Linked DNA regions of Homo sapiens: all the other regions are linked to region 2. Evidence: fine-mapped expression QTL. Tissue or cell type: whole blood. Region 2 holds a variant in brackets; each other region holds the start of a gene. Each region is shown on its reference strand, or each on the opposite one. Region 1 holds the start of BMX (BMX non-receptor tyrosine kinase). Region 2 holds the start of ACKR1 (atypical chemokine receptor 1 (Duffy blood group)). Region 3 holds the start of GLT1D1 (glycosyltransferase 1 domain containing 1). Region 4 holds the start of PFKFB4 (6-phosphofructo-2-kinase/fructose-2,6-biphosphatase 4). Region 5 holds the start of EGR1 (early growth response 1). Region 6 holds the start of FAR2 (fatty acyl-CoA reductase 2). Region 7 holds the start of MMP9 (matrix metallopeptidase 9).

What was found.
Region 1: BMX starts here. The variant in region 2 is fine-mapped to the expression of BMX in whole blood (TOPMed, PIP above 0.99).
Region 3: GLT1D1 starts here. The variant in region 2 is fine-mapped to the expression of GLT1D1 in whole blood (TOPMed, PIP above 0.99).
Region 4: PFKFB4 starts here. The variant in region 2 is fine-mapped to the expression of PFKFB4 in whole blood (TOPMed, PIP above 0.99).
Region 5: EGR1 starts here. The variant in region 2 is fine-mapped to the expression of EGR1 in whole blood (TOPMed, PIP above 0.99).
Region 6: FAR2 starts here. The variant in region 2 is fine-mapped to the expression of FAR2 in whole blood (TOPMed, PIP above 0.99).
Region 7: MMP9 starts here. The variant in region 2 is fine-mapped to the expression of MMP9 in whole blood (TOPMed, PIP above 0.99).

What each region holds. Positions count from the first base shown.
Region 1 is chrX:15,499,123-15,503,197 of GRCh38, reverse strand. BMX (BMX non-receptor tyrosine kinase) reads right to left here and starts at 2,391. Exons shown (of 19, transcript NM_203281.3): 1 at 2,258-2,391.
Region 2 is chr1:159,203,022-159,207,096 of GRCh38, reverse strand. It overlaps CADM3 (cell adhesion molecule 3), which reads right to left. Exons shown (of 9, transcript NM_001127173.3): 9 at 3,784-4,075. ACKR1 (atypical chemokine receptor 1 (Duffy blood group)) reads right to left here and starts at 2,222. Exons shown (of 2, transcript NM_002036.4): 1 at 2,117-2,222; 2 at 597-1,636. The coding sequence starts at 2,137. The coding sequence ends at 647. The variant A/G (reference allele first, on the strand shown) is at 2,204.
Region 3 is chr12:128,851,758-128,855,832 of GRCh38, reverse strand. It overlaps GLT1D1 (glycosyltransferase 1 domain containing 1), which reads right to left and starts at 2,355. Exons shown (of 12, transcript NM_001366886.1): 1 at 2,184-2,355. The coding sequence starts at 2,251. It overlaps LOC100128276 (a long non-coding RNA gene), which reads left to right and starts at 2,738. Exons shown (of 3, transcript NR_148996.1): 1 at 2,738-2,757; 2 at 3,481-3,640. RefSeq lists an enhancer at 1,374-2,025 and silencers at 1,887-2,086, 2,277-2,376.
Region 4 is chr3:48,554,662-48,558,736 of GRCh38, reverse strand. PFKFB4 (6-phosphofructo-2-kinase/fructose-2,6-biphosphatase 4) reads left to right here and starts at 1,934. Exons shown (of 14, transcript NM_004567.4): 1 at 1,934-2,056. The coding sequence starts at 1,960. RefSeq lists enhancers at 1,222-1,311, 1,442-1,531.
Region 5 is chr5:138,463,812-138,467,811 of GRCh38, reverse strand. It overlaps EGR1 (early growth response 1), which reads right to left and starts at 2,333. Exons shown (of 2, transcript NM_001964.3): 1 at 1,744-2,333; 2 at 1-1,055. The coding sequence starts at 2,050. RefSeq lists silencers at 2,080-2,289, 2,380-2,729, 2,740-3,139, 3,460-3,729 and enhancers at 1,595-2,434, 2,435-3,275, 2,348-3,547.
Region 6 is chr12:29,146,881-29,150,955 of GRCh38, reverse strand. FAR2 (fatty acyl-CoA reductase 2) reads right to left here and starts at 1,678. Exons shown (of 12, transcript NM_001271783.2): 1 at 1,549-1,678. RefSeq lists silencers at 1,311-1,460, 1,771-1,830.
Region 7 is chr20:46,007,390-46,011,451 of GRCh38, reverse strand. It overlaps MMP9 (matrix metallopeptidase 9), which reads right to left and starts at 2,544. Exons shown (of 13, transcript NM_004994.3): 1 at 2,388-2,544; 2 at 1,354-1,586; 3 at 821-969; 4 at 402-530; 5 at 136-309. The coding sequence starts at 2,525.

The DNA of each region.
Region 1 (4,075 bases), not on the chromosome of region 2:
GAAACAGGATACCAAGGGAGACAGGGTTATCTAGTTAAGTGGCCATTGGATAGTTCCCTCAACCAGGAAGTGTATTCCCTGACTGGCTCAGGGTGGTGTCTTTAAAGATTTATCTTTTAAAATTCAGAGATAAGGATAGCAATTCCTTACCCTTTGACTTGGTTTAGTTATCCTCTCTTACTTTACATGCCATATAGCTAAAGATTTTGTAGGTGTCAAGATGTTAAAATAATACATGTGGTGGGAGGGCAGTAGAGCAGGAAGGGTGGGAAAGAAAGGGAAGACGCTCCAAGTGGGGTGGGATCTGGAAGGGAAACTGGAGGGCCCTGTGACAAACTTGATCTTCAAATATTTGTCCAAATGCCAGGCCCGCTTATCTTCGTGCTAAATAACTGAACAAAATGTGATGGTAGGTTTAAACAAGAACAAAAAGTTTGACTGAGGATCAAGTAAAGTGGTTCAAAAAGTCTTAGGATGCTGGCCAAAGACAAATACTGGCTTCACAGAACCTGACAGATCCTTATTTCACATGATGTTATGCAGGAGAGGGAAAGTTAAAGTTGATCTTGGCATGATATGGACAGAAATCTTTTAACATTGACAGTCAAATTCTCAGCATCTTGGAGCATCATACCTTAATTGATCCAAAATAAGTGTATAAAAACCAGACACTTTGGGAAGATCATTTTCTCACAAAGAAGGCAAGAATCTTAATGCTAGTCTTTTTGGAGCTAAGTTTTGCTTTAGGTGTGAGATTAATCTTCAGTGCCCCATAGAGCTTTTCTAAGTCTTTTCTTCTTTTCAGTAACCTCTTTCTTTCTGCTCCCTCTCCTCTGCTTAGGGCACTCTCTCTGGGCAACTTCCTTAGGAGAAAAGCAAAAAGTAATAAATCCATGAGCTAGCATCTCATGCTGAATTAAACATGTAACACTGCTTTCATGATGCCGGTTAGTGCAAGTGAAAGCACCGAGCTGGGTTCGAATCCCTGCTCTGTCTCTATGGAATCTGTCATGTTACTTAACCCAGCTAAACCTCAGCTTCCCCATCTGTAAAGGCAGTGAAACAATAACCACTTCGAAGGGTTACAAGTAGTCAAGAGAAAATGGCAGCCTAATGCCCAACACCCTAGTAGATATTCTAAAAGCTTATGTCCCTTCTGATCACTCCATAGGCAAAGTTTTAAAAAGGACCATAAAAAGTTAAAAAACTAAAGACAGTGAAATAATAATGATCCTTAATGATAAAATTTTACTTCTCATCCCTCTGTCCCCAGCTCCTGGGTATAGGAGAAAATGGGAGGCAGGAAGACCTCCTCATGTATTGCCATGTCAACAAACACCAGTCCATACATAGTAGGTTTGTCGCAGACTTTCCATCCTGAGACGAGTTACCATAAAATGAGGTTGAACCATACCCTTATTGACTGTGTATTTGTGCCACCATATTTCCTACAAATAAATACTTGGATGTGACTCAAAGTGTGGTCCGTGCACTTGCATCATCCGGGCGATCATTAGACATGCAGACTCTCAGTTCCCACCCGAGACCTCGCGCAGCCAAATCTTCATTTTAGCAAGATCCCCAGGTGATCCACGTGCACAGGAAAGCTTGAGAAGCACTTACATGGACCACAAAGTTGCACTCCTTTTCAAATCCAATGAAATCATTGTGGCCCACAAAATCTTTCAAAATTATATGGATATGAGTACAACTGCATGGTTCACCTCCCTCCCACCTGTCTATCTCCATCTAAAATACACAAAGCACTTGATTTAGGGAGACCTCAGGAACCTAAGAGCAAATATTTGTAGCTAAAGTAACATCATAAAAACACAGTTAAAGAAGGTATAAGGAACATTTCTATGTCTCTTTGGAAGCAGTTATGAGGCCAATATGAAAGGCTATGGAAAGGCAATACCTAAAGAAGCGGATGGAGAAAATTAGCAGAGAATACACACAAAGCTAGGTAGAACTGGTGGTGATACATAAACAACCTGAGAGCTTCCCTAACTGAGATTTTGAGCAAGGAGTGAATTTACAGTGAAATTATAGCAGTTTCAGCCGTTGGCCTCCAAATTACCTGGTCCCATCTAAAGTCCCAGAGAAAGCCCTGGCAATTTCATATTAAAAATGTTGTACTATTTTTCTTAAAGTGAGCTTCCCAAAGTTTGTAACTTCAGGCCCCACAACACCGGGAACCAAACCTATTTTCCGCATAGTATGCGACACTGAGTAGCCACCTGCCGCTTAAACGCACCGTCTCAGCTTGTTCCGTGCTTGCCTGGGTCCGCCGCGGTGCTTGGTCTGCTGTTGCAGGAACACGGCCCCGGCTGTCCTGTTTCCAGAAGCAAATTGTTTCACATTTTCCTGGCTGCCGGGTCAGAAATGGCTACATTACTCAGTGCCCCCAACACGTTTATTGTCCTACAGAGCCTTACACAATCCCACAGGAAACCACGCTCAACACTTAGCCAACACTTGTTGATCTGATTGAACGCAACAAAAACGGAGACAAAAGCATACTTCATAAAGTTTCCAATTTTGATAACTATAGCTCCCACTTTTCCCAGGCAGCTCTCGGGTACATGTGATAACCCTGCCTTTGTTTGTAGAGCTCTATGCTGGAAAGGACAAGAAAATATCTCGGCAAAACCCGACTGCTGACGCTGACTTCTCTCACATGAGCCAGGAAACCATTAGGTAATGCAAAGTGCACAGAGAATATGCAATGAAAACTTCAACTCAACATTTGGACAAAGGAAGGCCAGAGAATATGTAAGAACAGTTCATATGATGGAAAAGGAGCTTATTTATATAGTTTAAGTTATTAAGAAATCCAGAAATGGAAAATAGATTGTTTTTGCTAAGGTATGGTACACCTAGATCGCAATGAAAAAGTGTGTCACTTGACATCATTATGACAGACTCACAACTTTTGGCTTCCCCCATTCCACTATTTTCTCTGGTGCATACCGGCTGGCCATCTGTAATAAATCTAAGGACATATTTTATGTCCTGCTATGGATAGCCAAGAAAAGTAATCATCCTTTTGGCATGCATTGACACACTGTGTTTACTTATAAATTGTTGCTTACTGTAACTTATTTGTAAGTATCTATGATGTGAAGAAGTCTTGGGTTGGCAGAAGAGAGTGAAGCTACTGGCTTTCAAAGAGGTATTCTTTTGAGTGTACATGGAATTAGCATCATTTCTATTAATTCGTTCAGTCAAGTCTTATTTGAGAACCTGCCATGTGCTGAGCATTCCGTTAGGGGTTGGAGACACAAGAGCAAACAGAAGAGAGGCAGCCCACATCTTCAAGGGGCTTATGTGTCTGTGTGGGGGGGGGGGGAACCACAAATAGTGGTTTAATTACAGTAGAGTATGGGAAAAATAACTTGCAGAAATATTTTTTAATATTTCAGTTTGGAAACTAGAATTTTGGGAAGGGAAAGGAGTCCTTCAGAAGAATTCAAAAGAGTGTAACTTACATTCTAATAGCAAATTAAAGTCACTGATGGATTCCAAATAGCTCTCCATTCTTTAGGAATATAGTAGGTAGTCATTCAAAAAATTAAGGGTGAAGCAGGGCAAGAGTGGCACAACAACCTGGCTAAATAAATTAATTCTACACTCTGCTAGTTAATTTCCTTTTCCACATGGCGATTTGTATTTACTTCACAACTTATATATGGTAATATGGCAAAAGTTCGATTCTAGAATAAAAAGTAAACTTAGGGTAGGGGAAGGAGGAGTTGGTGATATGGTTTGGCTGTGTCCTCACCCAAATCTCATCTTGAATTGTAGTTCCCATAATCCCCACATGTTGTGGGAGGGACCTAGTGGGAGGTAATTGAATCACGGGAGTGGATGTTTTTACCGTGCTGTCCTCATGACAGTGAATAAGTCTCACCAGATCTGATGGTTTTATAAAGGGCAGTTCCCCTGCACACGCACTCTTGCTTGCCACCAGGTAAGACATGCCTTTGTTCCTCTTTCACCTTCCACCATGATTGTGAGGCCTCCCCAGTCATATGGAACTGTGAGTCCATTAAACCTCTTTTCCTTTATAAAT
Region 2 (4,075 bases):
GATTCTAACAGATCGAGAAACAGATGTGTACACACACACACACACACACACGCACGCACATTCAGGTCATGCTGAGGAACCTGGGAGAGATGACTCCCAGGAAGTGGCTTTTTAAATTACCTTGATATGTTCCCTGAACTGAGTAACATCCCCTGGGATGCTTCTTTCACCTTCCCCACCACTGTCCTAATCACTAAACAAAGCCAGAGAGGAGACAGAAGACAGAGGCTGGGCAGGTTGGACAGGGGGAGGTGGTATTGCTCTGGGCTTTGTCATCACTCTTCACTGTTTATCTCTCAGTTTGAGTTCCTATTCCATTTGCTTCCCAGAACAGCTTTTTTTCCAGCTAAGCCATCCCTTCTGTTTTTTTTGGTTTAATGACTCCCCTCATGCTCTGGTTCCTCTTCTCTTCTCCCTTGAGATGGCCGTGACCCCACACCTCAAGAGAACATCTGTGTACCCTGAGGGTATTTATTCATCATTCACCTTCTTCCCAAGCCAGCTATAGAAGCAGACACTGGCAAGAAAGTCTGACATAAAAATGTCTCTCTCTCCATTCTCCTTCTTCTCCCCAGACAAAATAAGAAACCACCCGCTTCACAAAGGCAGTGTAGACTTTAATTCAGGTTGACAGGTGGGAAGAGAACTAGGATTTGCTTCCAAGGGTGTCCAGATGAGAAGACCATCCTTCAGGGAGGGGCAGAGAGGGCAAGAGGGTGCGGGTGGCCTGGTGGCAGAATAGGGCGAGGAGCAGGGGCGTAGCCACACAGTGCAAAATTGCCAGGGCTTCTGCCAGGTTCAGCAGCAGGTCCAGAGCCTGCTGGGCCAGACATGTTGACAACAGCAACAGCTTGGACCTCACCAGGAAATCCAGTCCTAGAACCACCCCATGAGGCCACCAGAAAATAAACCAGGCCCACAGGATATTCATCCAGGGGCCTGGCCCCATACCCAATGCCTTCTTCAGCCCCTTGGCTCCAAACAAACCCAATGGCAACAAGACAAAGATGGCAAGACAGGCTACAGTGTGTGTGGCCTGCAAAGCCTTCAGCTCCGTGCTGTATATCAGGGTGCAGAGTCCACCAGAAGCACCACTGGCCAGGGTGACAGGCAGTGTCAGTAGGGCAGCCACTCCCCAAATTCCCACAGTGAGCCCCAGGGTGAGGCCTGGGACCTGGCCTGCACCCAGTCTGTGGCCCAGGGAGGCATGGCACCCTAGCAGCAAAGCCTGGGCAAAGGCTGAGCCATACCAGACACAGTAGCCCAGGCTACACAGGGCAGAGCTGCGAGTGCTACCTAGCCCTGGGGCCAAGACGGGCACCACAATGCTGAAGAGGGCACTGCCCACAGCCAGCTGTGCCAGGACAGGCCAGCCAGGGCAGAGCTGCCAGCGGAAGAGAGGTCTGAAAAGCATGAAGAGGACAGTGCTGCTAGCTAGGATACCCAGGACACTGGTGAGGATGAAGAAGGGCAGTGCAGAGTCATCCAGCAGGTTACAGGAGTGGCAGGGGGCAGCTGCTTCCAGGTTGGCACCATAGTCTCCATCTGGGAAGGAATCATTCACACCATAGGAAGAATTCCATACATCTTCGAAGTCCAGCTGACTTGAGTTCTCAGTTGAGGGGGAGAGCTCCGCCTGGAGGACATACCCAGAGGAGGCCATCAGAGTTACACCGGAAGAGTCTCCTGGGAATTGAGGGGCAGGTGGGAGGGGAGGACAGAGAGGAAGGTCGGGTGGGAGAACAAGGTCTCTGCAGGAGTCAGATGCAGTGCGGACAGTGGAAAAGGACAAAGCAGGGAGCCTGAAGAGCCGGAGCAGGAACAGTCCTGGGGAAGCCAGGGCAGCTGGGGCTGGAGGAGCAGTGCAAGGTCAGAAGGAAAAGGCACCAAGAGACCAGGATGGAACTGACTCAAAGGCAAAGGGAGGGACACAAGAGGGAGCTAGGAGGCTAGCATAGGAAGGAGAGAAGGAAAAAGACTTTGAAGGAAGAGGAAAAAAGCAGGAAGGGAGAAAAGATGAGGAGGAAAAGGAAGAGATATAAAGACTGAGGGGCAAACAGCAGGGGAAATGAGGGGCATAGGGATAAGGGACTCTGGGGCCTGGCCCCATACTCACCCTGTGCAGACAGTTCCCCATGGCACCGTTTGGTTCAGGCCCGCAGACAGAAGGGCTGGGACGGCTGTCAGCGCCTGTGCTTCCAAG[A/G]TAAGAGCCAAGGACTAATGAGGGCCATCAGGTTCTGGGCAGGGACAGGGGGCATCAGGAAGCCTTACCCCACGCCCACTGCCTGCACAAGCCTCAGGCCTATGGGGGTCACTGGCCTTGGGTCTTCCTGTTTTGAGGTTGGATTTGGCTGGTTGGGACTACACTCAGGAAAAAGGTGGGGACCAGAAAGTGGGCATTTTACCGAAGTGGAAAGGGAGATTGAGAAAACAGGGGGCTTTCCAGCAAGTAGAGATTTTACCGAAGTGGAAAGGGAGATTGAGAAAACAGGGGGCTTTCCAGCAAGGAGAGATTCTTCAAGCACAAGGAAGGAAGAGAGGGGGGCTGGGTGACTTGTGAGGCAGAGATAAGGGAGGTGCTGGGAAATTGGAGTGGAAGGGCGGCTGACTCTCACTGCTCCTCCATCCCCTTGAACTGGATCCAAGGAAAGGCAGTTCAAAAGCCATGTGTTTGGGAGAAAGGTGGTGGTGGTCAACTCTGTCCCAACTGAGGGGTGTGTGCACGTGGGCGTGAGCTCTTTGTGTGTACTGAACTCTGTGTACGTTTGCTGTGTATCATTGTGCACATATCTGTATGTGAGGGGCTTGGCGGGTGTCTGGGTGTGTCTAGCTATCTCTAGGTCTGGGTGTTTCAGTGTGAGAGTGGGAGGGTTGGGGTGGCTGTCGAGGCTGCATAATGAAGCCATTTCAGGGAGCTATTGGGTGTTTGCCTAGCCACCTATGGGCTCAGTGCATGCCTCTTGCATATGAAGTGGAATACATGGTCTGACAAGTTAAAGTAGGCTCTAGGGGACAATGGGACAGCATATTTTAAAATGGGACCATTGCCCACAGGGTGATTTCTATTCATATTTCTACTGGGGGACATAAAGTCTCTGGAACTGTTTCATTGGCCAGGCATCTTAGCAATATGTAAAGTTTCTCACTGAGGGGCAGAGCTGGCCAGCAGAGAGAAAGGGCATCTACCCTGCAGGCAGGCCGATTCTCCCAAGCACATTTCACTTTTTTAGTGGCTTCTTCCCCCTCCCTCCCCTCCTCAGCTGTTTCCCCAGGATCGTCACTGTTTCATCACCCCTCTCTGCTTTTATTTCCTCAGCTAGGGAGACATAGTGGGGACTTTGGGAGCGGTGAGCCATGGCGTGTCCAAGTCAGAACAATGAGATAGAAAGGGCTGGTTAGGGGACGCTGTTTCATTTGTCCAAAACAGCATCGGCTGCTTCATCTCCAGTGTTGTTAAGGACCTTCTGTCCCATTCATGTAGGGCTTCCTAGGGGGCCAAGCACCTCAGACCTAAGGTGCAGAAGGATGGGTACCTCGTAGAGATTTCCCCCTTTTCTCCCAAGACACTAGCTCAAGTTTCAGGTTCAACATGAAGGGGCTGGAAAGTGAATTTGGTCTGGTGGTGTCTGGTGATGCTCTGCAGGGTGGGGTTGATGGCATCTCCATCGCCGTCTTAACATTCTCCAGCAATGCCTGGCAGAGGGTGGGGGGAAGCAGTCAGATGCCCCCCAAGACACTCTCTGGAAAGGAAGGGCTTAGCAAAAGGAAGTGAACACACTTCTCTCCCTTGTAGAGTTATATTGTTGCTGTACATAGATATTCTTGAGAGTGGCCTGGCAAGGGACACACCACCTTTTGAGGCACCAGGCACCAGGTGCAAGGGGTATGGGAAGAAGACCCTCACATACACACATCCCAGCAGCAGCAAGAGGACCAGAAAGGAGGCAGCTGAATGACACGGATAATCCAGATATATTGAGGGTGACCCCTCTGAGATTAGCACAGGAGAGTTAGAAAGATTATAAAGATACACGGTCCCCTCCCTGCTCCCTTCCCCCACCCCCCCACCCCTGGA
Region 3 (4,075 bases), not on the chromosome of region 2:
TGCAGTGAGCTGAGACCCCGCCATTGCACTCCAGCCTGGGCGAAAGAATGAAGCTTTGTCTCAAAAAAAAAAAAAAAAAAAAAAAAGGCAACCAGCAGCCCTTGGGGCTGCTCTGTCTATGGAGTAGCCAGTCTTTTATTTTTTTACTTTCTTAATAAACTTGCTTTCACTTTAAGGACTCGCCCTGAATTCTTGCTTGTGCAAGATCCAAGAACCCTCTATCGGGTTCTGGATCAGGACCTCTTTCCGTTAACAGTTTTGTTTTATTTTTTAGAGTTTTGATCTGCCACCCAGGCTGGAGTTCAGTGGTGCAATGTCACTTCGCTGCAGCCTCAACCTCCTGGGCTCAACTGATCCTCCTGCCTCAGCCTCCTGAGTAGCTAGGACCACAGGCATGCACACACCACATCAGCTAATTTTTAAATTTTTTTTTGTAGAGATGAGGGTTTCACCATGTTGCCCATGCTGGTCTTTAACTCCTGGGCTCAAGCAATCCTCCCATCTCAGCCTCCCAAAGTGCTGGGATTACAGGCTTGAGCCGCCATGAAAGCCTGCCCTAGGTTTTTTGTTTTTTTTGTTGTTGTTGTTGTTTTTTTTTTTTTTTTTTTTAGATGGAGTCTGGCTCTGTCACCCAGGCTAGAGTGCAGTGGCGTGATCCCAGATCAATTGGCTCACTGCAACAGCTGCCTCCCAGGTTCAAGCGATTCTCCTGCCTCAGCCTCCTAGTTTTGCTTTCTTAATAGCACTAATCCCTATGTGAAATCACCTCCTTCATTCCTCTCCCATACTGGGATGCTGGTTCATCCAACAGAGCCAGGAACACAAAGGGCTCCTCACTGCTAAACCCAAGCAGAGCATCACTGACCTATTTAATAGAAACCTGCACCATGAAACCTGAGTGTAAATTTTCCAGCAAATTTCAGAAAACTGATGGATCCTCTCTTGGTCATTTCTGCTTATGATCTTTAGGAGAAATTAGCTGAAAGGGACATGAAAGTGTTGGTGGAGTCTCAATTGCTCATTTTAATGATGAGGAGGCCGGGCACAGTGGCTCATACCTGTAAACCCAGCACTGTGGGAGGCCGAGGCAGGCGGATCACCTGAGGGCAGGAGTTCGAGACCAACCTGGCCAACATGGTGAAACCCTGTCTCTATTAAAAATACAAAAATCAGCCGGGCGTGGTGGTGCACACCTGTAATCCCAACTACTTGGGAGGCTGAGGCAGGAGAATGCTTGAATCCAGGAGGCGGAGGTTGCAGTGAGCCCAGATTGCGCCACTGCACTCCAGCCTGGGTGACACAGCGAGACTCCATTTCAAAAAAATAAATTGATGGGGAAACAGGCCCACAGAAGGGAAGTAAATCGGGAAATTTCATGAAGCAAGTCCGCTTTTACACACACACACACACACACACACACACACACACACACACACACGGCTTCTGTTAAGCTGCAGGCTCTAATCCTGGCACTTCCCAGGCTTCGCCTCAAGGAATATGTTTATCCGGCTAATACAGGCCGAGCGCCCGCTGTGCGGGTGGGAGGCGGCGGGATTAACGCGGCGGCCCCTCCCCGGGCCCCCGCCGGGCTTGCGTTCCAGCGACCAGAACACAGACCAACAAGTAAACAAATAAGACAAAGGCAGAAAAAGATGAGTGTGAAGGAGCTAACCAGCCAGGAAGACGAGAATAGACAGGGCAGAGGGGAGGTGGGAAAGGGACTTCGGGGACAGGACCCCGGACGCCGGCACACAGCCGAGACCCGATCCGCGAGGGCAGGGCTGGCACCGCGGTCCCCGGCCTGGAAACGCGCCCCCGCCGGGAGCTCCGCGGACCCCGCTGCGCATCCCTGCGGATCCTGCTCCCATCCTGCTTCTGCAGCGAGGCCTTCCCGGGCCCCTCCACGACAGGCTCCGGGCCTGTTCACCTGCTCAGTCCCCTCCGGAGAGCGCGAGGCCAATGCGCCGGCCGCACGGAGACCCGGGGACACGCGCGCCACGCAGAAGGCACCGACCCCCGCGCGCCCGGCAGGCGGCACCGGCCCATCCGTTTGTGCGCGCGGCTCGGGACGGCCCCGGCGCGGCTGGAGGGGGCCTGGCTGAGCGCCCCGCGTCCCCGGGTCCCGCGTCCCCGCCCCCCGGCCCCCGGCCCAGGCTTCGTAGGCCCCGGCGCCCTGCACCTACCGAACGCGCTGGGCCGTGACCGCGTTGCCGGTGTGTGGCCGCAGCACCGCCAGGAACAGGAGCCGCATGCCGCCGCCGCCGCCCGGGCCATCGACCGGCCCCGCCGCCGCCGACCAGGCCCCGGGGCCGGCGCAGACGCGGACGGCGGGGGAGCCGGGGCGGCTGGGTCTGTCCCGCCCGCCCCTCCCCGAGGCCGCGCCCCAGCTCGCAGGTTCCGGCGCCAGGCGGGGAGGGGGACAGGAACCGGGGGCCTCGGGCGGCGCGAGCCCTGGGTGCGGGGTGGCGCGGGTGTGCCCCGTGGGGTCCATCACCAGGGTAGCCGCGGTCTGTTTCCACCTGGACCAGGACCAGCGGTGACCACAGTCCCTTCCACGGGGACCAGGACCATCGGTGACCACAGTCCCTCACACGGGGACCAGGACCAGCGGTGACCACAGTCCCTCCCAAGAGGACTAGGACCAGCAGTGACCACGTTCCCTTCCACAGGGAACAGGCAGCGGTGACCACAGACCATTCTCACGGGGACCAGGACCAGCGGTGACCACAGTCCCTCCCAAGGGGACCAGGACCAGCGGTGACCACAGTCCCTTCCCACAGTGACCAGGACCAGGGGCGGCCTTGGTCCTTTCCCACAGGGAACAGGAGCAGGGGTGGCCATGGTCCGCTCCCATGGAAACCAGTGATGGCTTCCATGGGCTTCATTGGGAAATCAGGGCTTCACGGAACACCGGGTTGGCTGCAGGTCTGTGCCCACCGGGACCAGCAGAGACCTCGGGTTCCGTCCCACAGGGTGCTGCAGAGAGGGGCTCTCAGCCTCATTTTCCATGACAACCTGAGTGGGGCCTTGGTCCGCACGAAGCCCAGGATTCCTTTCTAGTCCCATTCCAGGGAACGTGGCATGATCAGTCCCAAATTCCTTCCCAGGCTAGACTACCCTAAAACTAACCCGAGGAGGGGAACATGGGGACTGTGTGAGGAGACAGTAGAAACCCATTTCAGGGCCGCACCTGTCGGGTGAGAAAGATGTTGGAGAGGGGAACCTGGGGTTCATCAGGGTACATGGGCTGCACCTGGTCTGGATCTCCAAACTAGGATACCTTGAGTGAGAGAAATAGGGAACTGAAGGAGGCCTCTGGCAAAATGCCATCTGTGGATTTAAACAAGCACTCCCCAAAACAGCTGTTAAGTGTTTACAAAGATGCACATGTATTTACAGATGTGGGACATTCTAGTGGGTGCCCAATATTTCCATTGACCTTCAAACTTGATTTTCTGTCATCCCCTAAATACCTTCCAGCCTCAAAAAGGTAAAGTGGGAATGAAGAAAGCCATGACATGGGATAACCACCGTCAGTGGCAGGTCTCCGGCCTCCCTACGCAGCATGGTGACCCCCAGGCTTATCAAGATATAAAAGTCCATCCTGGAGGGCACATTCGGCTCCGCAGGCTTCTCCCAGGTACGTCCACCACTCTGCCTCTCAGTGTGGCATGGAGTAGGGAAGAGTTGTATATCATTGTAGAACAATCAAAATCCTGTCCTCCTCTCACTCTCAAAAAAACACCCAGGATTTTGCTCTTCTTCCTGGTATTTCAGCTTCCCAGGCACCAGGCAGGCAGGCCACATCCTTTTTAAAGGACAAAAGCGATCTGAAAATATTATCATTCTGCTAAACAACTTAATACTTTCCAACAGAATTACATAAGCAAACAGGAAAGGGGACAAGTTGCACAGAGCTGTCACAACCCCCTTCTAACGACATTTTAGAAAAAGAGTTTTGACCCCGGGCACGGCGGCTGACTCCTATAATTCCAGCACTTTGGGAGGCCGAGGTGGGTGGATCACTTGAGGCCAGGAGTTCAAGACCAGTCTGGCCAACATGGCAAAACCCCGT
Region 4 (4,075 bases), not on the chromosome of region 2:
TGCAAAAGGAGGATGAGGAAGGAGGAAGTTGTTGACTCTGCCTGGGGCAGGGTGTTCCCAGGGCAAGCAGCTAGAGCTGGTTTGGGGGAGGGTCCAGATGGGCTTCCAGCATGTGGACCTTTGGAATCTTCAGTTCCTATGAAGTGGGCAAGACATCTGTGTCAGTCATCTTAAGGGTCCTTGCCAAGCTTTAAAGAGCTGGGTGGACTTGGACTGATCCAAGGCAGGGCTGTGGCAGGGAGGGCATGGGAGGGGGTGCTACACCTATAGCCCACGAGGCCAGTCTTGTTGCCAGTCCCATGCCCTCAACACCTGGCTCCTGGCTGGGTACACACTGGGCAGAGAGAACCTGAGGATGCAGGGCACCTGCCAGGGGTGTTGTGGATGACATCGCTAGAGGGCAGTGTGGCTCAGGTTGAAGCCGTGTTGGTGGGGGCTGGGGCAGAGAGTGTACAAAGCTTGGAGAGGCGGGGCTGGGGATCCCGAGGAGGCGGGAAACTGCAGGAGTCCGGTGGGGGCCAAACAAGAAAGTGAGCCAGGGGTTTAGGAACTTCTGGATCTCTCCCTTGTTCCTTGTCCCCAGTGCATTTTCAAAGACAAGAGGGAGATACAAATATAGTAAAAGGCAACCATAACGTATTTTAAAATGAATTTCTTAGAGATTGACATACTTAATTTATACTGTAATACTGTAAGATAGACAATGTGCACATCCCATTTTCCTGAAGAGAAAATGTTATTAACATATTATTTTCAAAAAATATGTAAAACTTTAGTTAAAAAAACCAAAATACTAAAAATCAAAAAAAAATTGTAAAAAATGAAATTCTGGAAAGACGATTAAGATACTCCCAGGGCTTAGTGAGTACCCAAAGTACTTGGTTACTAAGTGCCACGCACGGCCGGGCGCGGTGGCTCACGCCTGTAATCCCAGCACTTTGGAAGGCTGAGGAGGGCGTATCACCTGAGGTCAGGAGTTCGAGACCAGCCCGGCCAACGTGGTGAAATCCCGCCTCTACTAAAAATACAAAAATTAGCAGGGCGTGGTGGTGGGCGCCTGTAATCCCAGCTACTTGGGAACCCGAGGCAGGAGCATCCCTTGAACCCGGGAGGCGGAGGTTGCAGTGAGCCAAGATAGCGCCATTGCACTCCAGCCTGGGCAACAGGAGCGAAACTCCGTCTCAAAAAAAAAAAGTCCCACGCATTTGCTCCCAGCAGCCAAAGCAAAGAAAGAGGAACAATATTGAAATGTGTTTTGAGTCTCTATCCATGAGGTAAAAGAGCTTTTCCAGCGTGGTTGAGCATGCTCCTATGGACGGCGGAAGAGTCCCGGGGCTCGGAGCAGTCAAGGGGGACCCCGAGGAGGGGCAGGAGGGCGCAGCGGAGTTGACGGCTGGGACTGCAGGCCTACTGGCCCCTGTCGGCTCTGACCAACCTGGCCGTGCGGGTCACGTAGGCCTCGTCCCACTGCATGAAAACCCCTCCCTCCTGGGGGCCCTGGGCTCCCTAGCAAGGAGGTAGCAGAATTCACGCGTGCCGCTGCTCAGGGATGCAGCGCCAGGGCGGAGCCCGTAGGTGGGGCCTATGCAAATCAGCGCGGGCAGGTTGGGAGAGCTGAGTTTGCGCATCCGGGGCGGGCCTGCACAATCCGGGCCTTGAACTGGGGCGGGACCAGTACAATCCGGAGTTGAGCATGCGCATTCTCGATCCTGGCCTGAAGAACTGGGCCCACTTGTTCCAAAACGGGCGGGTAGGTGAGTTGGGCATGCGTGGTCGGAGGCCGGGCCCCTTTCAGCTGGGGCGGAGCCTACTCACTCTGGGGCGGGACCTGCGGGAAGATAGACATGGGCTGTCGCGGCTTGAGGAGGGGCGGGGCCCAAGGGGCGGGACCTCGGGTGGCCCGAGGTGGCCCGGCTGCTGGGTTGGAAGCGGCGCAGTCCGACTCATCCCGGCCCCGGGATGGCGTCCCCACGGGAATTGACACAGAACCCCCTGAAGAAGATCTGGATGCCATACAGCAATGGGCGGCCCGCTCTGCACGCTTGCCAGCGCGGTGGTGAGGCGGGGTCCTCTGGGAGGAGGTGGGAGGTGCACCGGGATGGGTGGGTAGGGCGGCCTGGGCGGGGGTCTCGCATGGAGAAGGGGCGGGAGACAGATGGGGAACCGGGGACAGGTGAGGTTGCCGTGACTGGGGAGGCTGCTGGGGACAGGTGAGGCGGTCGTGACAGTGGTGGGCCAGAGACAGGTGTGGCAGAGCAGGGGGCGGGGACAGGTGTGTGGGGGCATATCGGCTTGGCGGTGGCTAGGTCTGGCCACCATCACCTCGGGGAGGGCTCTGGCCCCCTCGCTTCCCTCTCCAATCCCCATCGCCCCCAGTCTGGGGAGGACCCTGTGGGCACCCCAGGCCCTTCCCTCTCTCCTGGCCAAGGAGTGTGGGCCGGGTTGTTGGACTGGAACTGAGCTGTGTGGCCCTAGGTGAATTACTTGGCCTCTCTGAGCCCAGAACTTTCAAAGGTGGGCTAGTTTTCCAACAGGAGGAAGGGTGCCTCTTGGCCTTAAAGCTGAGCTTGGGCAGGAACTTCAGCAGAGATGTGCTCAGGATAGAGACAGAAAAGTATGCCGTGTGGGCCTGTGTCTGTGTCCCGGGACATGTAAGTATCCACCTGGGGTCATGGGTGTACAGTAAAACTGGAGAGTGAAACAGCTAGGAGAATGCTGAAATTCATGGAATTGTTAAGGGGCTCACCTCTCCTAGGGTCCCAGGTGTTTAAACCGCTTCCTTGAGTTTCTGCCTGTCCTTAAATGAGCTGGCAGTTTTTTTTTTTTTTAAGAGATGAGTCTCGCTCAGTGGCCCAAGCTGGAGCAAGTGCAGTGGCGCGATCATAGTTCACTGCAGCCACGACCTTCTGGGCTCAAGCAATCCTCCCACCTCAACCTCCCGATTAGCTGGGATTATAGGTGCGCCACCACACCCAGCTTTTTTTTTTCTTTTTTCTTTTTTTTTGTAGAGACAGGGTCTTGCTATGTTGTCTGGGCTGGTCTCCAACTCATGGCTTCAAGTGGATCCTCTGGCCTCGGCCTTCCGAAGTGTTGAGATTACAGGCGTGGGTCCTGGCCTGCAACTTTTTTATTACCAGGAAAAGAAAGATTTGTTTTAGGAGTAACTGAAACATTGTAATGAATTTGCAGCTTGTCCAGCACCTCAGAGAACATCTAGTTTAACAGACAGTGAAATGGAGATCAGGAGATTGAGTGACATGCCTGGGTCTCCCTGTGATCCTGCCTCTGCTTATGTATGATAAGCAAGGGGAGAGTTCTTTGTGCTCATCCTGCTGCAGCAGCCTGGAGCCATGGCTTTGATCATGATATGAGTCCTGGGGGAAGGGTGTGTGTATTTCTGGCCACACTGTGAGTCCTGGCAGGGGAAGGCCATGTTTCTGACCAGACCAAGTCGTGGTAACTCATGGCTTTGATTGTGATGTAGGTCCTGGTGGGGCTGTGCTGTCTATAATGCACACTCAGTCCTGAGGGCTATGGCCACCCCTCCTTTGAGACTCTTCTGGAGGCGGGGAGGCTGAGCCAGTCTGTGTTATTAGGGCTGTGTGGTCCTGACTTAGGGGGGTGGCTGCTATTACTACATAGGGGAAAGGAGTGAGGACCTGGACTTTTTTTTTTTTTTTTTTTTTGAGACGGAGTTTCACTCTTGTTGCCCAGGTTGTAGTGCAGTGGTCCTATCTCAGCTCACTGCAACCTCTACCTCCTGGGTTCAAGCAATTCTCCTGCCTCAGCCTTCCAAGTTGCTGGGATTACAGGTATGCGCCACCATGGCCGGCTAATTTTGTATTTTTAGTAGGATGGAGTTTCACCATGTTGGCCAGGCTCGTCTTGAATTCGTTATCTCTAATGATCTGCCCCCCTTGGCCTCCCAAAGTGTTGGGATTACAGGCATGAGCTGCCATGCCTAGCCAAGTCTGTGAGCCTTTAAGGAGTAGGTCCTCAATAAGCGGAGGCAGGGTATTCTGTCATCACTACCATTCTTTCTTTGCTTCTCACTACGTCTGAGTCAGGGATTGAT
Region 5 (4,000 bases), not on the chromosome of region 2:
AACCGGGGACGGGTAAGAGGTAGCAACCGGGGACGGGTAGGAAGAGAGAGAGGAGGTGGCCGAAGAGGCCACAACACTTTTGTCTGCTTTCTTGTCCTTCTGCCGCAAGTGGATCTTGGTATGCCTCTTGCGTTCATCGCTCCTGGCAAACTTTCTTCCACAGATGTCGCAGGCGAAGGGCTTTTCGCCTGTGTGGGTGCGGATGTGGGTGGTGAGGTGGTCGCTGCGGCTGAAGTTGCGCATGCAGATGCGGCACTGGAAGGGCTTCTGGCCTGTGTGGATGCGGATGTGGCGGGTGAGCTCGTCGGAGCGGGAGAAGCGGCGATCACAGGACTCCACTGGGCAAGCGTAAGGGCGTTCGTGGGGGGGCGTCTTGCTGGGCCGGTTGGGGTACTTGCGCATGCGGCTGGGTTTGATGAGCTGGGACTGGTAGCTGGTATTGAGGGCCTTCAGGTCCTGGGAGCCCGACTGAGTGGCAAAGGCCTTAATAGTAGACAGAGGGGTTAGCGAAGGCTGCTGGGTGCGGCTCTCCAGGCCCTGGAAGGGCTTCTGGTCTGGGGTGCCCAGGCCCAGATCCCCCTGCTGCTGTGGAAACAGGTAGTCGGGGATCATGGGAACCTGGAAGCCACCCTTGGCGGCAGGGTAGGCAGGAGGCGGGTACTGGAGCGCTGTCCCTGCCGAGCCCGGGAAGGCCTGGCTTTGTGGCTCAGGGAAAATGTCAGTGTTCGGCGTGGGGAAGGTGGGTGCCGCTGAGTAAATGGGACTGCTGTCGTTGGATGGCACTGCGCAGCTCAGGGGTGGGCTCTGGGAGGCGGAGGCGGAGGAGGCCGCTGGAGATGGTGCTGAGGACGAGGAGGCCGGTGGGTTGGTCATGCTCACTAGGCCACTGACCAAGCTGAAGAGGGGCTCGGGCCACAAGGTGTTGCCACTGTTGGGTGCAGGCTCCAGGGAAAAGCGGCCAGTATAGGTGATGGGGGGCAGTCGAGTGGTTTGGCTGGGGTAACTGGTCTCCACCAGCACCTTCTCGTTGTTCAGAGAGATGTCAGGAAAAGACTCTGGCAGGAGAGAGAGAAGCGGGAGGCCTGGTTACTGGAAAGCAATCACTGGAGGACGAGGACGACCCGAGCTGCCAGGCAAGAGACCGGGCCGGCTACCATTGACTCCCGAGGTAGTTAATAATTGATAGCAGCACATTGCAATGTTCCTGGACCCGCACCAGTGGCAGAGCCCATTTCAACAACAGCTGACGCAAATACGGAGAATCCCCCTCCACTGCAGCTCGCAGCGCTCCGCAGCGGCGGCTGTGCGGGCGAGGGATTCCCGCCAGCACCCCCATGGCCGCGGCTAGTGCGCGCCCCCAAACCCGGGCTGCCGGGACATCCACGGCCAAGGATCACGGTCCTTCCTTGGGGACAGGCGGCAAGCAAGGCAAGGCAAGTCTTACTGGAGGTGGGGGGCGCAGCCCCGCTCATCAAAACAAGCCCTCCCCCTCCACCCACCCACGCAGCTCCAGAGCTCTCCATCCAAAACAAAAGCTCGGTCCTCTGCGCTCCGCTAGGGATGAGGGCAGGGGGTGGGCTGTGTGGGGTTCCTTGGCATCCCTCTAACACATGACTCTGGGGATGCGAGGAATGAAAGGGAAACCCGGCTCTCATTCTAAGATCCAGGAGCACTCCTGCGGTGAAGGACAGGACGCCAGGATGGTGGCGAAAGGGTTCCCCCTCGGCGTAGGCCACTGCTTACCTGCGGTCAGGTGCTCGTAGGGCTGCTCGCCCGTGTCCGCCTGAGGGTTGAAGGTGCTGCTGCTGCTGCTGCTGTTGCTGCCGCCCCCGCCGCCTCCACCGCCCCCGCTGCTGCTGCTGCTGCTGTTGCTGCCGCTGCCCTCTGGGGCCCCGGCGGCGCCGAGGAACTGGGGAGCCCCGTTGCTCAGCAGCATCATCTCCTCCAGCTTAGGGTAGTTGTCCATGGTGGGCGAGTGAGGAAAGGATCCGAACGGGTCAGAGATCTGCAGCGGGGACATCAGCTGCATCTCGGCCTTGGCCGCGGCCATCCTGGACGAGCAGGCTGGAGAGCTGGTGTCGGGGCGGGGGGGTGCAGCCCGGGGCTGGAGCTGCAGGGGACACAGTTGCGGGGGCCTGGCCGGGTTACATGCGGGGCGCGGGGAACACTGAGAAGCGTGCAGGCGGCGACCCCGACTCGCCCTGGGCGCGGGCGGGCGTGGACGCGCCGCGGCTGCGGAGGCTGGGGCAGGGGCCGGTCCTGCGGCGGCGGAAGCTGGCTGCGGCGGCGGATGGCGGCGGCGGCTCCCCAAGTTCTGCGCGCTGGGATCTCTCGCGACTCCCCGGATCCGCCTCTATTTGAAGGGTCTGGAACGGCACGGGTCCGCCTCCGTCGTGACGTACATGGCCATATATGGGAAGCAGGAAGCCCTAATATGGCAGGACCGGCCGGGAGGACCCGGAGTGACGTGAAGCCCCCCATCCGACAGCGCCCGGCACCTCCATCCTGCACCCTAGGGCCCGCGCCCGCGCCCGCATCCCAGGCGCCCAGGCTTCGGGGAAGCCTAGAGCTCTAGCCGCCGCCGGGGCCTCCGGGACCCGCGCAGCTCCGGAGTTCCCGCGTTGCCCCTCCCTCCGCCTTCTTCCCTCCTCCCAGAGCCGGAAGCGGCCGGGCCATATCGGGCCACTCCAAATAAGGTGCTGCCCAAATAAGGGTTGTTCCGGCGGGGGATCCTTCCTGCTCCTTATATGGCATTTCCGGGTCGCAGCTGGTTGCTCCCTCGCTCCCTCCCTCCTCCCTGGTTCCAAGCCGGGAGCCCGAGCGCTCGCGGGATCCGGGGACGCCCAGGCGGGGAGGGCTCGTGGCGTGTGGCGCTGGGCGCGCGGCTGCTCAGGCGGCTCCTAGGCGTGAACTAGGCTGGGGAAGCCCAGACCCAGAGCGGGGGCGAGGGCGAGTCGGGCCGGGGTTCTATCGCTGTCATCCAGGGCCCGCCCGCCCACCTCAGGGACCGTGAGAGCGAACCGGGAGTGCGGGGGAGGAGCGGCTGGGCCCGCCTGGGCAGGGGCCGCCCAGGAGAGGCGGGGCCTTGACCCCGGGCCTCGATCTATGGCACGGTGTCTTTCCGGGTGTCGCTGGGAAATTGAGGATAGGAAGTCACGGCCACTTGGTTCTTGGGACACTGTATAGCAGTGAGCTGCCTTGCCTCTGCCACCTGTCGGTGGGATGGGGCTGCTGGTGCCTGGGGTCCCCTGTGCTCCCCCGGAACCGAAAGGCTGTTCCCTAGTCCCCGCCGGCAAAGAGCCCACCTTTGGGGGACCGAAGTGGGGAAGCTGATTGCCCCAAGAGAGGCCTGATTCTTGTTCTCACCAGGAGATAATGGTCCTTGTGGTGAGGGGTCACTTTCCCCCCTTTATCCAGTCCAGGTGGAGGGCCGGCCCACACTGCGGGAATCCGAAAGAGGGGCTTCCCTATGGGCTGTCTGGGGACCCCGGGCTGGGCGCGAAGAGAGGACCGGCTTGGCGGCTCGGTGCTGCCCCCTGGAGGTTCCCTCTCCACTCCCAGCCCCGGACTCCGGCCGCGCGGGCTCTTCCGCCGCCTCCTCGCTCCTCCTCCCGGATGCGGCGCTGGGCGCGGAGCCAGGCCGGGGGAGCCTTCGACGCAGTGAGCACGAACTGAGCAGGCGCTGCAGCCCGGGCTCCCCCTGCAGTCCCTGGGGAGCCGTCACTGCCGAGGCGCCCAGACTCCGGGATAACACTCCTCACCCCGAGCCTGGCCAAGGCGAGGGGGAGAAGGAAGCAGGGGGTGGGTGGTGGCGAGGGAGAACGATTCCCGCAGGTCTCCCTGGGGCCGAACGCGAACAGGGAAGCCCTCCCCGCCCCCACGACGCAGTCAGTTGCTCACCCCAAAGGGAACAGGGATTCCGGGAAGGGAAGGCTCCTCCTGCTCTAGCTCTGAATCCAGAGGAGGTGCTGTTTTTTCTGGATTTAAAAAGAAAGCAGAA
Region 6 (4,075 bases), not on the chromosome of region 2:
ATTTTAGCTTCCTTTAAGGAAAGCATATTTTCATTTACTTTAATTTCTCTAATAGCTGTATGATTTACCAACTCATGGTGATTTACATCTCTTTTATAGATAATTATAGCCCAATGTTAGAAATAGGAGTAAGTGAGGAATTTGTTAATACAGCAGGGGCAGAAGCAGCCCTCAGAATTAGGAAAAGAGTACTGTAAAGACGTGGATCCTGAGAAATACTACCGATGAAATATTGACACACGCGTCGGCCTGGTAAAAACCTCATGCCCATCTCCTAGAAGTCTCACACACAAATATCCCTTCTGCGGAAATGCCTGCTCTTGCAGTTTAGGTGGCTGCCTTAAGTTTTTATTTAGTCCCTTGCCCCCCTTTCTAAATTTTGGACTAACTACACCTGTCAGTCAAATCTCCAGCTCTTATAAATGGGAATATACAGAGATGGGTAATTGAAACCACGGGGTAATTCTCAAATTTCCATTTGCCCAGTGTCAAATTTCTCTCAACCTAGCAAACAGAAAAGCACGATCTACCTGAATTCCCTGGTCACTTTTCTGACCCTACTCTGTCCTTGCTCATCACATAATGGGGGCACTTTACGTGATTCAACGAGTGGCCAAACTCTTGCAGATCCAGCGATAACCTTGGTTGCTCACACCACATAACTCAACCGTGGAAGAAATGGTGCCACCGCTGGCAGGTGAGACGCCTTCCTCTGGTTTGTAGGATACGATTGGGCATGAATTGTTTTAATAGACTGAGACTGCCCCGCGGGTAATTCTACTTGCTAGGAGTGTTGAGCAGCCTTCCTGCAAGCCATCTACTCCAGTTGGGAGTCTGCTGGCACCTGCTCCCCTGCACACCCCCAGGATGCCCAGGCCGCAGGAAGATGTCTAAAACTTCCTACAGGGGCAAAGCCCGCCCTGGCCTCACCAGTCGCCCCAGCGCGCGTCAGCCACGACCCCGGCGAGGCCCAGGTGGGAGGGTAGGGACGTGCGCAGCCTGGGGTGGGGCTGGGGGCTGGCGAGGACCTGCTCCGGGGACCAGGACTGGGCGCCCTGGCGGTCCCAGGCACCGGGAGGGGACCTAGGACCGCTGCCGTTTCACACGTGGCCCCGGCATTTTCGCGCTCTCTCCAGGAATAGCCCCAAGGGCCCAGGAGGCCTGGGTGGGACTCGGCCCCGCGCCTCTCTTCCCGGGTCCCCAGTCCCCAAGGCGCGGCCCCCCACATTAACCTTGCTGGGTCCTTCCCGGCTTTCTGCCCTTTGCAACCCCCGCGCGCCCCACCTTGGCGGGCTCCGCCGACGCCAACCGCGCGTAAACGGCCGGTGACGATTGGGGTGCAGCCGGGGGCAGCTTCAGGGGGCAGAGCCTCCGCAAATGCTTCTCTCCTCCCACCCGGCCTCACACCCACCCTCCTCGAGGTCCCGCCGGGAACCGCCCCGCCCTGCGAACCCAGCCGAGCCCTCCCTCCTGGGCCACCCCCAGTCCGGTCTCTGCTTTTGGAGCGCGTGGGCTCTGCGAGCGCCAGGGCTGGGGACCCTGGAATACCTGTTCCTCCAGCACGAGGATGGGGTCCAACTAGTGGTCCTCTAAATCCTGCTCCTTCCCCGAGGCTACGGGAAGCGCTCCAGCCACAAGGAAACGGCTCCAGTCTTTCGGCTCCCAAACGTGACACTCTATATATCCGGCTCGGAGACTGGGTGTGGGGCGGGAGGAAACCACCCTCCCTCCGACCTTCCCCGGCTCCGCCGCTGCCTCGGCACTGGGCGCGAAACCGGCGGCAGCCTCAGCCCGGGGCGGGAGGAGGGTGAGGGGCCAGCGAAGGCCCTACAGGTCGCGGGGGCGACAGCATCGTGGGCAGGGCGGCCGCGCGCGCAGGCCCGCCCCGCGCTTCCATTCGTTCAGCACCAGCGGATCCACTGGCTATGACTCCCGCATTTGTGTGGTTTGGGGGAGGGGAGTTGGTTTTGGTTTCGGTGGGTTTGGTTTGTTTGTTTGTTTGGGGCTTTTGTTTTGTTTTGTTTTGGGTTTTGGGGTTGGTTTTTTTCTCCATTTTTTAATCAGTGGGCGAGGGGACAAGGAAGCTAGAAAGGCGCCCCTCTCTGGTGTGGGAAAGGAGAACTCCCACACCGTGAAAGGTGGCGGGGTAGGGGGGTGGAGGGAGAGACCGAGACAGGAGAGAGATTCAAAGGTTCTAGTCTGAACTGAACGCTTGGGGGACATACCTTTCCCCACCCACCCTAGCAGAAAAGGCAGCCAAAAATCCCAGTTTACTCAGCTTGACTACACTGCACATCCCGTGGGAGGGATGCTCTTGTATCTGCTAAAGACATTGCGGAGGCGCCCTGCAGTGACCCACGAACGCAGTGGCTTTTTAAAACCCAAGGGCGTGAGGGTGGAGGGTGATGCGAGGACTTCAGGTGAGGCTTCCTCACACTCGGGGTTTGAAGGGCAGAAATCCGGCTCTGCCTGCCTATGGTGGGGTGGGGGTGGGTAGGAGACTAGAAAGGATCAGAGATGGGGGCCGCAGAAACAGCAGTGAGCCAGCTGTGCTCAGCAGCACTTCTCCGGACTTAAAAGAAAAAAAGATGTTTCATTTCTTAGCCTGGTAGCTTTTTTGGGATTTGGTCATTGTTAAATTTTAAACGGAAAAACAAGCTGCCAGGGAAGCCTTGTAGAGGGATGGACAGGCACGTGAGTGGAGCCCTTGGCCTCAACCAGGAAGTGCTGAAAAACGGCCAACGCCCATCCTAATTCCCTGGACAATGTAGGAGGTAAATTTCCAAATAAATATGGTGTGTTAAGAAAAATAGAAAAGAAATATTGTCCTATAAGCTGTTCTGATTCTCCTCATTATAACAATCCACATGCAATTAAAGAAATAAAATTTGACTTTTGAAAGTTAGAATTAAGGAGTGATTTCATGAAATTAAAATAATAACACCCATCTTGAATTCTCTACTACTGGGCTCTTTAATGAAATGTGTTAAGCTAAGTGTAGCCTAAAGGCACTGACTAATTTCCTCTGGTGACCGCCTGAATGCAAGAGACAGAAAAAAAGTTACAACCAAATTTATAGTATTTTTCGTTACCCCTCCCCTCCTCAAGAATAAATTTGAATGTATCTTCAAAATGTGTGTGACAGCACTTCAAATGATAATGTCAAATGCTGGTGAAAACGTATAGAAATCACTTAACAGATAGCAGATGGAAGGTAAATTGTAATCACGCTTTTGTTGGAAAGCAATTTAGCAACACATTCCCAAGGTGTTCAGTAACGAAATTTTTTCTTGTTCTGGACCTAGATTCCCATGTCTTACAATGTATTCAAAGGAGATAATCCATAAAAGAGAAATGCCGCATGTACATAGTTGCATATTTATTACCGAGTTGTTTATAAAGTAGGAAATTAAAAGCATACTTTCAGTGGGATGTTCATAGATAAAATACAACATTAATTATAGATTACAAAACCACAATTTGATTATCACCATTTAAAACGCTATTCATATATGTAGAATGTATTAGTTTGCTAAGGCTGTCATAAGGATGCACATAAACTGGGTGGATTAAACTATAGAAATGTATTATTTCATAATTCTGGAGGCTAGAAGACCAAGATCAAGATGTCTGCAGGGTTGGTTCCTTATGAGGGCTTTGAGAGAGAATTTTCCATGATGCTTACCTACTTCCAGTGGTTTCTTGTTGGCTTGTAGACACATGACCCCTGTCTCCTATAATCTTCATATGGCATTCTCCCTATGTTCATGTCTGTGTCAAAATTTATCCTTTATAAAGATACCAGTCATATATGATTTAGAGCTCACCTTAATGGCCTCATTTTAACTTTACTAATTAAATTTGCAACAACCCTATTTCCCAATAAGGTCACATTCTAGAGTACTGGGAGTTAGGACTTCAATATGTGAAACTGGCAGGGGCGGAGAAGAACGCAGTTCCACCCATAACAGATAATAACAAAAAGAGGCAATGTAGTGGGTTGAATAGTGGCCCCAAAAGATATGTCCTGAGGCAAATCCCCAGAATCTGTGAATGTGACCTTATTTGAAAAAAA
Region 7 (4,062 bases), not on the chromosome of region 2:
AGATGAGAAAATTGGGCCCAGAGTGCGGGAGGGTGAATTGCAGGCCACACAGCACTAGTGGCAGAGCTGGAATTAGAACCCAGGACCATCAAGGGTGGTGGGCGCCCCCAGCCCTCGGCGAGCCCCCTCACTCACTCTCGCTGGGGCAGAAGCCAAACCGGTCGTCGGTGTCGTAGTTGGCCGTGGTACTGCACCAGGGCAAGCCGTCGGAGCGACCGTCGGTGGTGCAGGCAGAGTAGGAGCGGCCCTCGAAGATGAAGGGGAAGTGGCAGGCCGCGCCATCTGCGTTTCCAAACCGAGTTGGAACCACTGCAGGAGGAGGGGGGACCGGAGTTAGGGCGGCGGGTGATGAGTGGGAGAGAATGAAGGGAATCAGGGGCCAGGAGGACTCAGAATCTCACCGACGCCCTTGCCCAGGGACCACAACTCGTCATCGTCGAAATGGGCGTCTCCCTGAATGCCGGGGCCAGGAGGAAAGGCGTGTGCCAGGAGCCCGTCCTTCCCGTCGAAGGGATACCCGTCTCCGTGCTCTGAAGAAACAGGTCGAGAGGAAGAGGGTTAGCCGAGTACTGCTGCGCAGATTGTGCGCTGCCCAAGGCAAGGGCTCCGAAATAAGTGCGGGCTGAAATCCCGCCTGCGCGAAGCTCTCCCAGCCTGGCGCCCTGGCCCTGTGCACTGTCTGGCAGGAGGGGCCGTATAAGCCAGGGCAGCGCGGGCAGGCAAGAGGAAGCCGGGGCCACTGCTGCCTCCACGCTCTCCGTGGTCCTCCCTTCCCTGACCCCGCCCAGGTCTCTTGGATTTTCCCTCCTCACGTTCTCACCCGCGACACCAAACTGGATGACGATGTCTGCGTCCCGGCTGTACACGCGAGTGAAGGTGAGCGGCGTCACCGCGCTCCACAGTGCGAAGGCGCGGGCAAAGGCGTCGTCAATCACCGCCCGCGGCAAGTCTTCCGAGTAGTTTTGGATCCTGTAGCGTAAGAGCCAGAGGAAGGAGGTCAGAAGTGAAAGGCTGGAGCGGGGCAGCAGGGACACCCCATATCGCAGAGACTTCAACATACACAATGCTCTCTGCCGTCCACGCTCTCATCTATAAATTGCTTCCAGACTGTTTTTTTTTTTTTTTTTTTTGTCTACTTAGACCCTCACAATGGCCCTGGCAGGAGGACTTGGATTGCAAGAGCCATTTCCCTGAAGGAGAAACAGAGGCTCAGAGGTGGGGACACTCCCCAGGGGCCACACATTAAATAGTGAAACCCAGGGACGCGTCCAAGACAGGACATGTTCACCGCTGGCCCAAGAGCCAGACCTGGCCTCCCCGCCCCACCCCGCTGCCCCCACGGCCCCGGCTCACCAATAGGTGATGTTGTGGTGGTGCCACTTGAGGTCGCCCTCAAAGGTTTGGAATCTGCCCAGGTCTGGGACCCCGCACCGTGGGGTTCGCATGGCCTTCAGCGTGGCGCTATCCAGCTCACCGGTCTCGGGCAGGGACAGTTGCTTCTGGAGAAGCAGCAGCGCAGGCCCCAGAGATTTCGACTCTCCACGCATCTCTGCCACCCGAGTGTAACCATAGCGGTACAGGTATTCCTGTGGATGAAGGGACACACACATGCCAGATCTCTGACCCCTTTCTCTGCCCAGCTGGGGCCAAAGGACTCCCTCCAGACACTCATGGAGGGAGTCTTTTTTCTTTTTCTTTTTCGGAGAGACGGTATCAGCCCACTGCAGCCTGGACCTCCTGGACTCAAGCGATCCTCCCATCTCAGCCTTCTGCATAGCTGGAACTACAGGTGCACATCACTGTGCCTGGCTATTTCTTTAATTTTTTTGTAGAGACAGGATCTTACTATGTTGCCTAGGCTGGGCTCAAACTCCTGAGCTTCAGCGATCCTACCACCTCAGCCTCCCAAAGTGCTGGGATTACAAGTGTGAGCCGTCATGCCCAGCAGGGACTAACATTTAATAAAGCATTAAATGCTTTCCAGACACCAGTGCTTTCTGACCACCCAGGGATCTCCCCTCCTTAGACATCCTCAGCTCCTTCTCACCCCTGGATGCCTCTAGCCCATTTCTACCCCACAGCTGCATAAGGTTTGCCCCTGTTCACTCCCAGCCTATGCTTACCCCAGAACCCTCCAATGCCTCCCCCACCCCAAACCATTTCCCATTTCCCACCTAGGAAAGCCCCATTGCCCATTTCTGGCCATCACTGCTCAAAGCCTCCACAAGACCCCCCACTGCCTAACCCTGGACACCTCTGTTCTTCAGATACGCCCATCACCACCAACACACCCCTAAAGCATCTCCTCTGAGGCCCTGCATCCTCTCTGGGACACTCAACACCCTCACGGACAGCCCTCCCCAACTCTAGACTAGGTGTTTGCCCACCTCTGCCAGCTGCCTGTCGGTGAGATTGGTTCTCAGGTCTCCAGGGAAGAGCACAAGGGTGGACTGGCGCTGTCTGGGGGCAGCAAAGCAGCAGCCCAGCACCAGGAGCACCAGGACCAGGGGCTGCCAGAGGCTCATGGTGAGGGCAGAGGTGTCTGACTGCAGCTGCTGTTGTGGGGGCTTTAAGGAGGCGCTCCTGTGACCCCACCCCTCCTTGACAGGCAAGTGCTGACTCAGGGGTCAGGGTGTGTGTGTGTGTGTGTGTGTGTGTGTGTGTGTGTGTGTGTGTGTGGCAGCACCAGCATGAGAAAGGGCTTACACCACCTCCTCCTCTCTCCACTGCCCGCAGTCTCCACTGCCAAGTCAGGCAAGACCCCAGACCCGCAGGAAACCGCAGGCCCTCAGGGGAGGGGTAGGGTTTTGCAAACTGCAGAGCTTGTGGGAACTGTATGAAAGGGAGGGAGGGGGATGAAGCTGGAGGGATCCCCCATCCCTTGGTCTGAAAGCCTCCAGTGGTCAGCCAAGGGAAAGTGATGGAAGACTCCCTGAGACTTCTTTCTGAAACTAATGATCCCCCTGGCCCATCCTTGGCCTTTTGCAACACCCCCTCCCAGGTCAGATATCCTCCCCAAACCCCTCCCCACACTCCAGGCTCTGTCCTCTTTTTCCCTCCCTGACAGCCTTCTTTGACTCAGCTTCCTCTCCCTGCTTCATCTGGGGGCGGAAGGAATGGGCTCTGCTAGGCAAGGCTGGGGAATTCCACTGGGGCAACCCCCTGTCTTCCGCAGGCTGAATCTTCAGGGCAGTAAAGGGGACAGTAGCAGCCTCTAGAAAACAGCAGACATGGCTTTACTCTCTTCCTTCAGGACCTCGGGCAAATGTCTTACCACTTTGAAGTGTTTCCTCAGCTGTAAAAAAAAAAACGGGGGGTGGGGGGCTCTTTGTCCCTAAATTGATGTGAGGATTAAATGAGATCAAACATATAAAATGTTTAGAACACTGTAGGTTGTAAGTCCGCAACGGATGGTGGTGATTGGTTTTAATTACTAAGGCCAAGACCCAAGATTCAGGGCCAGGTATGGTGGCTCATTCCTGTAATCTTAGCACTTTGGGAGGCCGAGGTGGGAGGATTGCTTGAGCCCAGAAAGAAGGTCAAGGATACAGTGAGCCATGATTATGTCACTGCACTCCAGCCTGGGCAACAGAGCGAGACCCTGCCAAAAGACCATGATTCTAACTTGGAATCACCAAACCAGGTTATTGGGCTCTAAGCTGCAGTGTAACCTGGAGTAAATGCCTTCCCCTTTGTCAGCTTAGGATTCTTCAACTGCAAATTGGGGCAGGATATGGGGGAAAATAATCTATAGGAGCCCTTTCAGTTCTCCAGCCCTGCTCCATGCAGCCAAATCTCCAGCCCCAATTATCACACTTATGCCAAGCCTCCCTCCCAAGCCTCCCACACCAGCAGCCTCCCTCACTCCTTTCTTCCTAGCCAGCCGGCATCGGGCAGGGTCTATATTCACCTTCTTCAAAGCCCTATTTGGGAAAAACCTGCTAACAACTCAAAAAGTTGTATTTATTTATTTTATTTTATTTTTGGGGGGTGTAGTATCACTCTGTCACCCAGGCTGGAGTGCAGTGGCGTGATCTCGGCTCACTGCAACATCTGCCTCCC